4 linked regions of the Homo sapiens genome follow. The protein of the gene in region 1 purifies or fractionates together with the protein of each later gene. This does not show direct contact. Each region holds a gene or a part of one and is shown on either strand. Other genes may lie near its edges.

Region 1 (3,586 bases):
TATAGCACACAACCAAAACACATTTGCTTCCCCCCACTCAGAGAGCCACAAGAGTGGAAGACAAGGGGAGGACCGCTGAGCTCAGCTCCCACCTGCACTAAGAAGCACATTGCGGGCCGTTGGATGCCAAGCCACGATGCCGACTCTCTTTGAGTGGCCTTCCAAAATCACCACAGGTTCAGTCAGGGAAAGGGTGAGTCCATTTTCTGGGATCTGCCATACCTGTTGGACAAGGAAGAAAGATGATCCACATGAAAGCTATTGCCTTTCATTATCACATTTACAGTGACCATCCACTATAAAGATTTGCTCTATGTAAACAGAACATAGAGTGATATCTGGATGAAAGGCAGAATGTTGTGAAATGACCGTGTTAGGCGGTTTTTTTTTTGTTTGTTTTTTTGTTTTTTGTTTTTCGTTTTTGAGACGGAGTCTCACACTGTTACCCAAACTGGAGTGCAGTGGCGCGATCTCGGCTCACTGCAACCTCCATCTCCCAGGTTGAAGCAATTCTCCTGCCTCAGACTCCCAAGTATCGGCTGTTTTTAAAATGTAATATGTTATCGGAGATCAGGATACCAACAAGGACTACAAAACATTTCCTCTCAGCTTTTATTTAATATTATTTGGGATTTTATTCTAAATTCCTTGTTAAGTTCAAAACTCTCCAGTTAGAAGCATGCAAAAAATTGAAAGAAAACTACAAAATGATTGAAACACTCAAGAAAAGGAATGGGAATGAAGACACTTAGCTAAGTCTGTGGTTCTTGATGGGATGACATAGTTTTTAAAACATATTTTCTATAATTTTACACTTGGAAAACAAAAATACACTTAATATTTTTATAACATGTATTATAGAAAATATTACAAAAGAAAAAAATGAATTAGACCTCATCAAAATTAAAAGCTTTTGTGCTTCAAAGGACACTATGAAGAAAGTGAAAAAACAACCTGCAGAATGGGAGAAAATAACTTACAAATCATACATTTGATAAGAGACCCATAGCCTGAATATAGAAAGAACTCTTAGAATTCAACCAAAGGACAAATAACCCAATTGAAAAATAGGCCAGTCATCTAAATAGACATTTCAAGGAAGACATATAAATGGCGAAAAAGCACATGAAAAGATGTTTGGCATTATTAGTAATTACAGAAATGCAAATCAAAACCACAAGCTCTCTCTTCATGCCCATTAGGATGGCTAGAATCAAAAAGACAGATAACAAGTGTTCACAAGCATGTGAAAAAATCAGAGCCTGCACACATGGCTGGTGAAAATGTAAAATGGTATAGCCACCATTTGGTGGCAGACCTTGGAAAACAGCCTGGCAGTTCCTTAAATGATTAAACAGAGTTATCATATGATCCGGTAATTCCACTCCTAGGGATATACCCAAGAGGATGGAAACTATGTGTCTATGCAAAAACTTGTACAAGAATGTTCATAGAAGCATTATTTGTAATAGCCCAAAGGTGGAAACAACCCAAATATCCATCTATCGATAAATGGCTGAACAAAATGCGACATATTCATACACTGGAATATTATTTGGCCATAAAAAAGAATGAAGTACTGATACATGCTACAACATGAGCAAACTCTAAAAACATTATGCAAAGTGAAAGAAGCCAGACATAGAAGACCGCATATTGCAGGATTCCATGTATGTGAAATGTCCAGAATAGGCAAATCCGTAAAGACAGAAAGTAGAATAGTGGTTGCTTAGTGTTGGGGAGAGTGGAGGGAGGCAGGTGGAGGGGTGATAGCTAAAGGATTTGGGTTTCTATATGAGGTGATGAAAATTTTCTATAATTGTCTGTGGTGATGGTTGTGAATATTCTAAAACTCAGTGAATTGTACATTTTAAATGAGTGAATTCTATGTGAATTATATCTCAATAAAACTTGTTATTTAAGAAAATCCTCTTGACTAGTGAAGACATGCAGAAGACTCACCACATCTTAATTGGGGACATGCCTGGGCACAGGGGGAGAAAGGGACAGGGAAAGTATGAGTGGAAGGAATGAAAGACTTTATGTTTAACAATGAACAACAAAGGTTTCAAAAGGTTAAGAAACAAACAACCTCTAAGAAAAGGGCTGAGTTACAGGTAAGCTGAGTAGCATCAAGAACCCTACCGAAGACCAGATATTAAATAATATTTAAGTTTATGAAAAAGCTAAAGTTTAAAATCATTATCTTCTACATGAAGATTAAAACAAGTAAATTTACCATCAGAAAATGATTTTGAGGAACTAGCTCATGAAAAATTTAAGAACTTGTCAATGAAAAATCATGTTCAACACTAGAACACGTGAGAAAAAGAATTTTCCTTTGTGGGAACTTTAAAGAAGGAGACAAACAATTGTCTGTTTTCAATTGCTTAGTGGAAGGCAGAGATCTAGACTGGATGAGTGTTTAGGGTTCAGCTCAGTTCTACTGTCCTGCAAAAAATGAGAACAAAAAGTTTGCCATTCTGAAGAGTGGGAAAAAGTCATGAGTTGAGTGATTTGTTCATTTTTACAGCTAAATTCTGCCCAGGCTAAATATAACCCCTTATGCAAATCATAACAAAAATAAACCTGCATTTTGAGGGCCCAAGCTTAGAACATCACCTAATTTCCCCAGAGCCAAATTTTAAGCAAGGCAGGTGTGAACAAGCATAGAAGGAAAAGGAAGACCTACCCTGCCCTCTCCCTCCCTCTGCGGAAGAGACCTTGACCCAGGCCTCTTTCCCCTGCGGAGAACATGGGCATCTGCTCTCCTCCATTACTGCATGTTAGCTTTCATCCTGACATGCACTATTTTTATTCAAGAATTTATGATTAGTGAAACAACTCCACATTGAACTTGACTATCTGAATATAAAGCAGGACTGACATTTTGAACAGAACAAACAGAAAACAGTGACTACTAATTTGATCAAAGCATGAAGTCGACAGAAAAACAATTATGAAATGGGACTTCAGTGACTCAACAGGAAAAGCATTTTGCAAGATGCACTGTGACCCCACTTAGAACTGACAGAGTGGTAATACCACCTTCAATCTCCAGATGGCACCCCAACCATGGCCTGCTGGGTTTCCTTGCAAGGACTGAAAACGCCTCTGTGTCTCACTCTGAGCACAGCTAGTGCATTTTCCAAATCACTAATGAGACGTGGAGTGATGGGAGACTTTGTTTATAATCAGCATTTCCAACCTTAAAATATGAGGGCAGAAGCAGAGCTCATAATGGGGACTTAACCTTTTCCTTTCTCTAGCTTCTCCCCATCATCTTTTCCTGGATTAAAAGAAAATTTTAATGATGAAGCAACATTTATTAATTTTTAAAATAAGGAAACTCTGTGTGTTCCTTCTTTACCTCACCTCCAGCTGGTTTAACGGTTCCCTCAGCTGGGTTTATTCACATAAGACAAGCACCTAAGCCATTTTACTACCTTGGTTAACTCTTTCTTGTAACACATTTATTGAGTTACAATAAATTGTATTGTAACCCATCTAGTACTGGGTAACTAAATACAGGCCCTGCTCTTGAGAAGTTGATGGTCTAACAGAAAGCAGAGACTTCTATCAGACT
Region 2 (3,586 bases), about 38 Mb from region 1:
ATTCTTTCCCACCATTTTTTCCTCTACAACCACCTCCAAGATTCTGTTTCAGGAAATCTGGATTTGTGCATAATACTTGATATTTATTAATCACCAGAAAATTTTGATCCATAATCCAATATGGAGATCAGCATCCACTGTATTGTTAAGTCTTTTCCTTAGGTGTTGATTTGTGAGGCTTATATTAGTCTTTCCACCATGGTAATCTTTGGACAATTTTTTCTCACTCATTCATTCTGTAAGTTAAAACAAGCATTTAACTAGATGCCATTTGAATGTGTTATGCTTTTCTACAATAAGTGGTATGCTTTGCTACAATAAAAGTTGAGAGTTATAGTTTCTGTTCTTATATCATTTCTGCCTATGAGAAAAAAACCTACTCAAAAATTCAACTTTATCAGAAAATATTCAGCATATAGCACCAATTTGTACAATACCTTTCCTGTGGTTCATCTATCAAGGCCTCTCCTAAATAATATAGAAACATTATAACTGTTCCATTTTTACTGTTTTACACAAGAAGTGAGATTCATCCCCAAACCCCAATCAAACCTTATTTAACATAAGATTACTTAGTTGGAACTTTAAAAAAAAGTAGATATGGACTCAGTGGTGAGTTATTCAAGATAAAAGATAATTCATAGAAAAACTACCTCCTATGACCCTCATACAAATATGTCTAGTAATAGACTTCGAAAATAAGGTAACTAGAATAAGCCATTTGCAATTAACCACTGAACAATGCTATATTCAAAAAATGCCTGATAATATGTGTTGGGGAAAGAAATTAATTTCTAGAAAAAGCAGAAGTTAAAATTTGCACAATTGTGGTACAAAAACACCCTTATATTTGAGTACACATAAGTATAACACATACTTTTGCTTTAACACAATTATAAGCTAACAGATATATTTTTCTGCTCCATCTTAAATATGCCATTGTGGGGTTTTTTCTTTTTGTTTTTGTTTTTTCTTTGGTTTTTGTTTTTAGAAACAAAGTCTTGCTCTGTTGCCCAGGCAGGAGAGCCATGGTGTGATCATAGCTCAATGTAGCCTCCAACTCCTGGGCTCAAGTGATCCTCCCACCTCAGCCTCCCAAAGTACTGGGATTACAGGCATGAATCACCATGCCCAGCCCTGATAAAAGTTTAAGAATAATACTTGTAGACCTATATCATGAGAGCTCACTGACTTGCTAGAGTAGCTACTGTGAAAAATTAACCGAAATGCATTCATATGTTTGCAATGAGTGATTTCAAATCATTGTTTAAGTTGGTAACTAAGTATTATAATCTACAGCAGCACAAATACATGTGTTGTTCATCTATGGGATGTGAATTTTTTTGTGTGTTCTTCCATGAAAGAAAGCAGACCTATGAAGGTAAAAATCTAAGCCACATGTTTCATATTTGTTTCATAAAAGACACATTAATGATTGTATTCAAGTTTCCAGGTAATATTTATTTAACACCTACTATGTGCCAGAGCTTGTGCTAGCACTCAGGTACCCTGTGCTAGTACTAAGGTGCCCTCCACAAGTGATTTTTGACCCAAGCTGCATATTAGACTCACATGGCAGCTTTTAACTAATACTAGAGTATAAAACCTGAGCTTTATCCTCTAAGCTGACTAAATGAGGTATTGTATTTTTAAAGTACTTCCTAGGTGATTCTGATGTGCAGCCAAGGTTGCAAATCATTAAATACATCTTATTCCTTAAAGTAATGGGGAAATCAGATAAGTAAATAAATAGGTAATTACAATAGAATGTAGAGAGAAGAAAGTACTTTCCTTTCCAATATATGTCCTTGCCAGTATGTCACATTAAGCACTCATTCCTTTTTTTTTTTTAATTATACTTTAAGTTCTAGGGTGCATGTGCACAATGTGCAGGTTTGTTACATAGGTATACGTGTGCCATGTTGGTTTGCTGCACTCATCAACTCGTCATTTACACTAGGCATTTCTCCCAGTGCTATCCTTCCCCCAGTCCCCCACCCCCCGACAGGACCCAGTGTGTGATGTCTCCTGCCCTGTGTCCAAGTGTTCTCGTTGTTCAATTTCCACCTATGAGTGGTACACGCGGTGTTTGGTTTTCTGTCCTTGTGATAGTTTGCTGAGAATGATGGTTTCCAGCTTCATCCATGTCCCTGCAAATGACATGAACTCATCATTTTTTATGGCTGCAATAGTATTCCATGGTGTATATGTGCCACATTTTCTTAATCTAGTCTACCATTGATGGACATTTGGGTTGGTTCCAAGTCTTTGCTATTGTGAATAGTGCCACAATAAATATACACGTGCATGTGTCTTTATAGTAGCTTGATTTATAATCCTTTGAGTATATACCCAGTAATGCAATCACTGGGTCAAATGGTATTTCTAGTTCTAGATCCTTGAAGAATCACCACACTGTCTTCCACAGTGGTTGAACTAGTTTACACTCCTACCAACAGTGTAAGTGTTCCAATTTCTCCACATCCTCTCCAGCATCTGTTGTTTCCTGACTTTTTAATGATTGCCATTCTAACTGGCAAGAGATGGTATCTCATTGTGGTTTTGATTTGCATTTCTCTGATGACCAGTGATGATAAGCATTTTTTCATGTGTCTGTTGGCTGCATAAATGTCTTCTTTTTAGAAGTGTCTGTTCATATCCTTTGCCCACTTTTTGATGGGGTTGTTTGTTTTTTTCTTGTAAATTTGTTTAAGTTCTTTGTAGATTCTGGATATTAGCCCTTTGTCATATGGGTAGATTGCAAAAATTTTCTCCCATTCTGTAGGTTGCCTGTTCACTCTGATGGTAGTTTCTTCTGCTGTGCAGAAGCTCTTTAGTTTAATTAGATCCCATTTGTCTATTTTGGCTTTTGTTGCCATTGCTTTTGGTGTTTTAGTCATGAGGTGTTTGCCCATGCCTATGTCCTGAATGGTATTGCCTAGGTTTTCTTCTAGGGTTTTTATGGTTTTAGGTCTAACATTTAAGTCTTTAATCCATCTTGAATTGATTTTTGTATAAGGTGTAAGGAAGGGATCCAGTTTCAGCTTTCTACATATGGCTAGCCAGTTTTCCCAGCTCCATTTATTAAATAGGGAATCCTTTCCCCATTGCTTGTTTTTGTCAGGTTTGTCAAAGATCAGATGGTTGTAGATGTGCGGTATTATTTCTGAGGGCTCTGTTCGGTTCCATTGGTCTATATCTCTGTTTTGGTACCAGTACCATGCTGTTTTGGTTACTGTAGCCTTGTAGTATGGTTTGAAGTCAGGTAGTGTGATGCCTCCAGCTTTGTTCTTTTTGCTTAGGATTGTCTTGGCTATGTGGGCTCTTTTTTGGTTCCATATGAACTTTAAAGTAGTTTTTTCCAATTCTGTGAAGAAAGTCATTGGTAGCTTGATGGGAATGGCATTGAATCTATAAATTACCTTGGGCAGTATGGCCATTTTCACGATATTGATTCTTCCTATCCATGAGCATGGAATGTTCTTCCATGTGTTTGTGTCCTCTTTTATTTCGTTGAGCAGTGGTTTGTAGTTCTCCTTGAAGAGGTCCTTCACATCCCTTGTAAGTTGGATTCCTAGGTATTTTA
Region 3 (3,586 bases), 9.4 Mb from region 1:
CCAACATGGTGAAACCCCGTCTCTGCTAAAAATGCAAAAATTAGCCAGGCGTGGTGGCGCACACCTGTAGTCCCAGCTACTCAGGAGGCTGAGGCACGAGAATCACTTGAACCCAGGAGGTAGAGGTTGCAGTGAGCCAAGATTGTGCCACTGCACTGCAGCCTGGGTGACGGGGCAAGACTCTGTCTCAAAAACAAGAAACAAACAAACAAACAAACAAAAGGCCGGGCTCCACGCCTGTAATCCCAGCACTTTGGGAGGCTGAGGCGGTGGATCACCTGAGCTCAGGAGTTCGAGACTAGCCTGGCCAACATGGTGAAACCCCGTCTCTACTAAAAATACAAAAACTTAGCTGGGCATGGTGGCAGGTACCTGTAATCCCAGCTACTCGGGAGGCTGAGGCAGGGGAATCACTTGAACCCGGGAGGCGGAGGTTGCAGTGAGCCGATATTGTACCACTGTACTCCAGCCTGGGTGACAAGAGTGAAACTCTGTCTCAAATAAATAAATAAACAAACTACATGGTACAGACCCAAGTTGTCTCAGTGGCTCCAGCCTGGCCCATTCTAGATCAGCCTTCAGCTAGTCATCGATCCCCAGGCAGATCAGCAGAGCCCCCTAACCAACCACCCCAGCCTGTGGGTAATAAGCACTACTGTCATTTTGGGGTTGTTTCTTATACAGCATTACTGTGGCGATCAATAATTGATACAGAACCCAAGTGGCTTTATTTGCCTAGAAATCCAGAAGGGGTAGAAAGAAGAGGGCTTTGGCTTTGTTTCCACTGTCCCACTGCTCTCTCTGCCTCTCCCTCTCTCTCCGCCTCTCCCTCTCTCTCCGCCTCTCCCTCTCTCTCCGCCTCTCCCTCTCTCTCCGCCTCTCCCTCTCTCTCCGCCTCTCCCTCTCTCTCCGCCTCTCCCTCTCTCTCCGCCTCTCCCTCTCTCTCCGCCTCTCCCTCTCTCTCTGCCTCTCCATCTCTCTCCATCTCAAATGGCCCTAGAGTTCAAGTTCTCTCAGAAGCCCCATGGAAGAATGGGCTGGCAGTAGGGACTGTGTGCCCACTCTGGACAAAGCACTGGGAATCCCACTGTGGACACAACACACAGAAACCTCCAAGAGTTCACAGTCTAGTGAAGAAAAGAGACAATAAACTGGCAAGTACAATGCAGTGTGATAAACACCAAGATAAGGCCTCAGAGAAAGGGCTCCTAAGTCCAACTAGGGCAAATGTCAGGAAACACTTCCCCCAGGAAGCCAAACTGAGATCTGATGGACAAGTAGGAATCAGCCAAGAAAAGGTGAGGATGGGTTCCCAGGCAAACGGAGCATGTTCCAAAGCCCAGATCGGCAGCCGCAGCATGTTAGAAATATAAATTATCAAGCCTCACCCCAAAACACCTAGATCAGAAACTGCGGGAGAGCAGCAGCCCTTTGTGTTTTATTTATTTATTTTTAACAAATCAGCAATTATTTAACTTTTTTTTTAAGAGATGGGGGTTGGGGGGGGTCTCACTCTGATGTCCTGGACAGTCTTGAACTCCTGACTTCAAGTGATCCTCCCACCTCAGCCTCCCAAAGTGCTGGGATTACAGGAATGATTCATTATACCTGGCCCAGCATCTGTGTGTTAGCGAGCCCTCCAGGTGATTCTGACGCCCATTCAAGACTGACAGGTGTCCGGGTGTGAGTGTGCCTGCTCAGGCCTGTAATCCCAGGGCTTTGGGAGGCTGAGGTGGGCGGATCACTTGAATCCAGGAGACTGAAGCTGCAGTGAGCCACAATTGTGACACTGCACTCCAGCCTGGGCAGCAGAGATACCCTGTCTCTCTTTTTGTTTGTTTAAGGTAAAAAACTGTTTTTTTCTTTTTTAGAGATGGTGGAGGGGCGGCGGGTTGGGGTGGGGGGTCTCACTATGTTGCCCAGGCTGGTCTTTGAACTCCTGGACTCAAGCATTCCACTCAGACCCACCTCGGGCTCGCAAAGTGGTGGGATTACAGGCGTGAGCTGCCACGCCCAGCCAACCCTGACTCATAAAAAAAGACCGACAGGTGCTAACGGGCATTAGACTGTCACTAGGTAACAAGAAGCAAATGCAACCCATTTTGCTGAGAAGTTTCACAATTGTCCAGCCCCCTCCACAATCAAGACCCAATACAAAGAGGCTGCAGGAATAGGAAGATGGGCAGAACCTGTTGGGGTGATAAAAATGATGAATTAGTGGTGATGGCTGTATAACCCTGGACTACACTAAAATCCCCTGGGTGGTACACTTAAAAAGGGTGAATTTTGTGGCATGTAAATTATATCTGAATAAAGCTGTTATAGAAAAAATAAACTGCCACTTGCCCCTGGCAATCCTTCCCATTTAAGTGAAAGAGTAATCATTATCTGTATTTGGCCTCTTGTCTGGTTAGAAGGGGCTCCCTTTTAAAGATCTGAAGCCAGCCTGGAGCCCCAGGAAGTTCTGATTCTCTCACCATTTTGGCCACACCATTCCCAAGACTTTTCAGCCAAGTCAGGATGAAAACAAACGAACAAACAAACAAAACACCAAATTTTAAAAACTAAGCCACTTGCTGAAAGGTGGAGAATGCCATCTAATGACAGAGATTCCAAAACAGCAAGAAATGCTTCTGAGCAATCACTTTAAAAAGCAGGTGAGGGCCGGGGGCGGTGGCTCACGCCTGTAATCCCAGCATTTTGGGAGGCCGAGGCAGGTGGATCACTTGAGGTCAGGAGTTGGAGACCAGCCTGGCCAACATGGTGAAACCTCATCTCTACTAAAAATTAGCTGAATGGCCGGGCGTGGTGGCTCCTGCCTGTAACCCCAGCACTTTGGGAGGCCAAGGTGGGCAAGATCAAGAGCTCGGGACCAGCCTGGCTAACACGGTGAAACCCCGTTTCTACTAAAAATACAAAAAGTTAGCCGGGCGTGGTGGCGCACACCTGTAATCCCACCTACTCGGGAGGCTGAGGCAGGAGAATCCCTTGTACCTGGGAGGCGGAGGTTGCAGTGAGCCAAGATCGCACCATTGCATTCCAGCCTGGGTAACAGAGCAAGACTCTGTCTCAAAAAAAAAAGCAGATAAGAATTCTTTTTATTTATTTATTTACTTTTTTTTTGAGATGAAGTCTCGCTCTGTTGCCTAGGCTGGAGTGCAAGGCGTAATTTCGGCTCACTGCAACCTCTGCCTTTGGGTTCAAGCAATTCTCCCGCCTCAGTCTTCTGAGTAGCTGGGATTACAGGCACCCGCCATCATGCCCCGCTAAGTTTTTGTATTTTTGTAGAGACAGGGTTTCACTGTGTTGGCCAGGCTGGTCTTGAACTCCTGACCTCAGGTGATCTGCCCACTTCGGCCTCCAAAAGTGCTGGGATTACAGGCGGGAGCCACCGCACCCAGCCAAGAATTATTTTTAAATTATTAGGATTGGGAACCCAAATTATCCAGTGGCAACCGCCACAATGGAAAGGAAGATGAACTTCAGAGTTACAGATGCAACATGTGTTCATGCAACCTGCAGACCTGCCCCTTGCCTAACTCCTTGGCAAAGAAATAAAGGAACAGTGGCTTGGAAAAAAGCCGTG
Region 4 (3,586 bases), on another chromosome or scaffold:
ATGAGGACTAGAGTGGGTGAGCAGGGCATCTGGCCAAGAGCCTAGCATGATGGAGTCTGAGGGGAGCGTTCAGTATCATCGCTACTCACCTTCTTCAGCGCAAAGGATGCTGTCTGGCCACCCCGCACCTCCTTGACAGGCATGCGCTTGCGATGGATGGATTTGACAGCAATGGACAGGAAGTTACCCAAGGGGTCTGGGCCCAGCAGCAGCGTGTCATTCAGCTTGATCAGGCCTCTCAGTGTTGTCCCCGAAACCACTGTCCCCACACCCTGCCAAGGAGAAGACCCTGGCCTCATAAGTGCATCCCCAGCACAGACCCACCCCCTGATGCCACTGTAGGAAGTGCCCACCCAGCTACCCGCCCAGAGCCACTTACCGGGACGGAGTAGGTGTCATCAATCTGAAACTCAGCAGGCTCCTCCTCCCTGTAGCTGGTGCGGGGGGAGAGGAGGTTGAGGAACATCTTCAGCAGATCTAGGTTCTCGCCTGTAACGTTGGAGATCTGGAATATCGGGCACATCCTAAGCAGAGGGAGAAGAGGAAGGAAAAAAGGAGAGAGGCACTCAGGAGACCAGGTCCTGCCCTGACACAGACCAGGGGCAGCAACAGGGCTCGAGGAGCAGATGCCACTATTCATGACTCCACCTCTCCCTCACCTGCCTCCAAGGGCTTGACCTCTTTGCCCTGACCTAGCAAGCTCCTGGCCAGCCCTACTCTGAGGCCTTCTTCTCTCACTCAGTTCTGTCTCTGACACCTGTCCTCTCCTCTCTGTCCTCCACCACTGCCCTAGTTTGGAACCTCATGACTGCTTCTTCCTAAAACACACGCATGCTTGCTTAAAATCCTTAACCGCCTTTCCACCACAGAGAAGATACCCCAAATCCCTCTCCCAACACTCACAGCCCTTTGGCTTGGGCTTGTAGCCATCTCTGCAGATTCACTTCTCGCAAATTCCTATATTCCAGCCACACCAGAGAACTCTCCCTTCTCCTAAAACTTTGGAACTTTTCTGCCCTTGTGGATTTGCTCACTCTGACCTTCCTTCCTGAATTCTTTCCCTTTTATGCAACTACCAGGCCCTCTCACCCTTCAGAGCTCATCTCAAATACCACTTCTTCCATGAAATCCTTCCTGGGTGGACACTCTTGACTCCTCTGAGTTCCTGGAGAGCTTTTTCTCTATTACACATGACTGCATCTGATTTTTCATCAGAGTCCTGTAAATGGCCTCTATTGCTCCTATTCAGGGTGACTGAATTAAAATCCTTGAGATCACGAATTACACATTCCCCACAGCTCCTAGAATAGTGCCTGCACAGAATAGGCACTCAAGAATATCAACAAGCTCAAATGGGGCTGTCTGAAATGTGCCCCCTCTGCAGGCTAACTGATGGTACTGAAGATCACATCAGGGCAGAGGCATAGGCAAAAAGCCAGGCTGCTCTGGGCCTGGCGCTATAGACCAAGCTCTGGGCAAACAGGCAGAGTTAGTAGAGTTCACCATTATCGAGAGAGCATCTCTCACCAAGGAGCTGAACACCTTGAGGACAAGGATTGTGTTCAATTCAACTCTGAATCCTCAACATCTAGATGAAGAGTCTCGCAGAACAAACATCCAATAAATATTTATGGAATGAAAGAATACATTAATGAGTAAATGCCAAAACTGATCTGATTAGTGAGCTTTTGAGGAACAACAGTATAAAAAACTGAGTTACAAAAATGGCTGTGTATTTACCATCCATCAGCCAGGCAGGGCATTAAGTGCTCTACATACTTCATTTCCAACATTCACGGGAGCCCTACAGGGAAGGGAATGTTATTCCCATTTCACAGATAAGGACACTGAAGTCTCAGCCGGGATGCCAACCCCAGGAATGCCAGCACCTCACAATCTGGGTTACGTGATATTACCCCTGGGCAACAATGCTGGCTTGGGAGACCCTGCGCTAAGATTGGAAGCTTCTATTTCCTCCGATCTCTGAATAGGGAGAGGTGTTGATGTGGTGTTTTCATGAGACCTTATGCCCAAACTGACAGCCATTCCAGGCCCATCACTCACTGTGGTCCTGCCTGCAAGGGTGCCTGTCTGAAGTGTGCGCTCCCCACGCGTTACCTTTCAGAGCTGAAGTTGGAGGCTGTGACAATCACATCATCTTTGCTCTGCACCAGCACGGGGATCTTCCGGCAGCCTGGTGACTTCAGCAGGCGCTGTAACAGCTTCAGGGTTTCTTAAAGGGTGCAATGGAACAGAATTAGGGGGACACAGCCTTCTCTTTGGCCAGGCTTTAAGAGCAAGATGGGTCCACTCATTACTGATGCAAGCAGGAGACAGACAGATAGATGGACCAGTGTTAAATGCCACAATGCCTGGAGAAGCAAAAAGGAGGATCAAAACTTTGGGTGCTGCTAGAGTAAGAAAAGCACAGATGGGGCCTCTTTTCTAGGGTTCTGCGTCTGAAACCTGGCAGATTTCTCTTGTGTCTAGACGACCTGCCTCCTGTAAGCATGTGACTTGAGGGTCCCCAAGAAAAACAATTCACTTCACACTTCAGTTCTCAGAATGCACTACTTCCTGGAAAAAAATCTCATCCAACAAAAAGGATCTCTTAGACATTTAGAAGTCTACAGAGACCCTTATTATGAGGCTTCCCAAAGGGATACTTTTCTACAATCTTTAGCAGTGAGGGAGAAAGGCATGAAGGCTTAGTCCTGCAACCCTGTGTCAAAGCTTTGGTGGCAAAAGGTAATCAGACCCTCTGTCCAAACTTCCCCGTATATATCCAGCTTAGCTGGTAGAGCCCAACTCCTTCTGCCTGGGGTCACCTGAAAAGAGGTGCCAGATTCAGGATCTCAAGATTTCTGCATTTGGAACCAGAAGGAACAAGGAAGAGGATAATTCTAGGCTGTGTTCAGACCAAGAACTAAATAGGGGAGGAAGTAGCAGAAGATTCTGGGCTGATGGAAATTCAGGCCAAGACCTAAGTACAAGACAAAGGAAGTTTCGCCCGCGTGCACTGAAGATGGTAGCTGCTGTGGGAAGGCTACTCTGAGCATCGGCTGCCCGACATGTGAGTGCCATTCCTTGGGGCATTTCTGCCACTGCAGCCCTCAAGCTTGCTGCTTCTGGAAGAACGAGCTTGACAAACATATTATGGTCTGGTTCCAGTCAAGCAAAATTCTTTAGCACCAGCTCCTCATACCATGCACCTGCTGTCGCCCAGCATGCACCCTATTTTAAGGGTACAGCCATTGTCAATGGAGAGTTCAAAGACCTAAGCCTTGATGACTTTAAGGGGAAATAATTTGGTGCTTTTCTTCTATCCTTTGGATTTCACCTTCGTGGTCCTACAGAAACTGTTGCTTTTAGTGACAAAGCTAAGGAATTTCATGATGTGAACTGTGAAGTTGTGGTCTCAGTGGATTCCCACTTTAGTCATCTTGCCTGGATAAATACACCAAGAAATAATGGTGGTTTGGACCACATGAACATCCCACTCTTGTCAGATTTGAGCAAACTTCCTGAGACTACGGTGTGCTGTTAGAAGGTTCTGGTCTTGCACTAAGAGGTCTCTTCATAACTG

The links. Proteins that work in one complex are often made in the same cells at the same time.
Region 2: the proteins of CORO1C (region 1) and PTPRB purify together in Homo sapiens (pull-down; one large-scale study listed by IntAct). This does not show direct contact.
Region 3: the proteins of CORO1C (region 1) and VSIG10 fractionate together in Homo sapiens (co-fractionation; one large-scale study listed by BioGRID). This does not show direct contact.
Region 4: the proteins of CORO1C (region 1) and GTPBP1 purify together in Homo sapiens (affinity purification with mass spectrometry; 2 studies listed by BioGRID and IntAct, with this or other methods). This does not show direct contact.

The regions. Positions count from the first base shown.
Region 1 is NC_000012.12:108,661,937-108,665,522, forward strand, and holds part of CORO1C (coronin-1C), read right to left. Parts: intron 223-3,586; coding exon 93-222; intron 1-92. UniProt on the Homo sapiens protein: Plays a role in directed cell migration by regulating the activation and subcellular location of RAC1. Increases the presence of activated RAC1 at the leading edge of migrating cells.
Region 2 is NC_000012.12:70,630,844-70,634,429, reverse strand, and holds part of PTPRB (receptor-type tyrosine-protein phosphatase beta), read left to right. Parts: intron 1-3,586. UniProt on the Homo sapiens protein: Plays an important role in blood vessel remodeling and angiogenesis. Not necessary for the initial formation of blood vessels, but is essential for their maintenance and remodeling. Can induce dephosphorylation of TEK/TIE2, CDH5/VE-cadherin and KDR/VEGFR-2.
Region 3 is NC_000012.12:118,097,426-118,101,011, forward strand, and holds part of VSIG10 (V-set and immunoglobulin domain-containing protein 10 precursor), read right to left. Parts: intron 1-3,586.
Region 4 is NC_000022.11:38,722,944-38,726,529, reverse strand, and holds part of GTPBP1 (GTP-binding protein 1), read right to left. Parts: exon of another isoform or gene 3,008-3,586; intron 2,234-3,007; coding exon 2,119-2,233; intron 525-2,118; coding exon 380-524; intron 273-379; coding exon 90-272; intron 1-89. UniProt on the Homo sapiens protein: Promotes degradation of target mRNA species. Plays a role in the regulation of circadian mRNA stability. Binds GTP and has GTPase activity.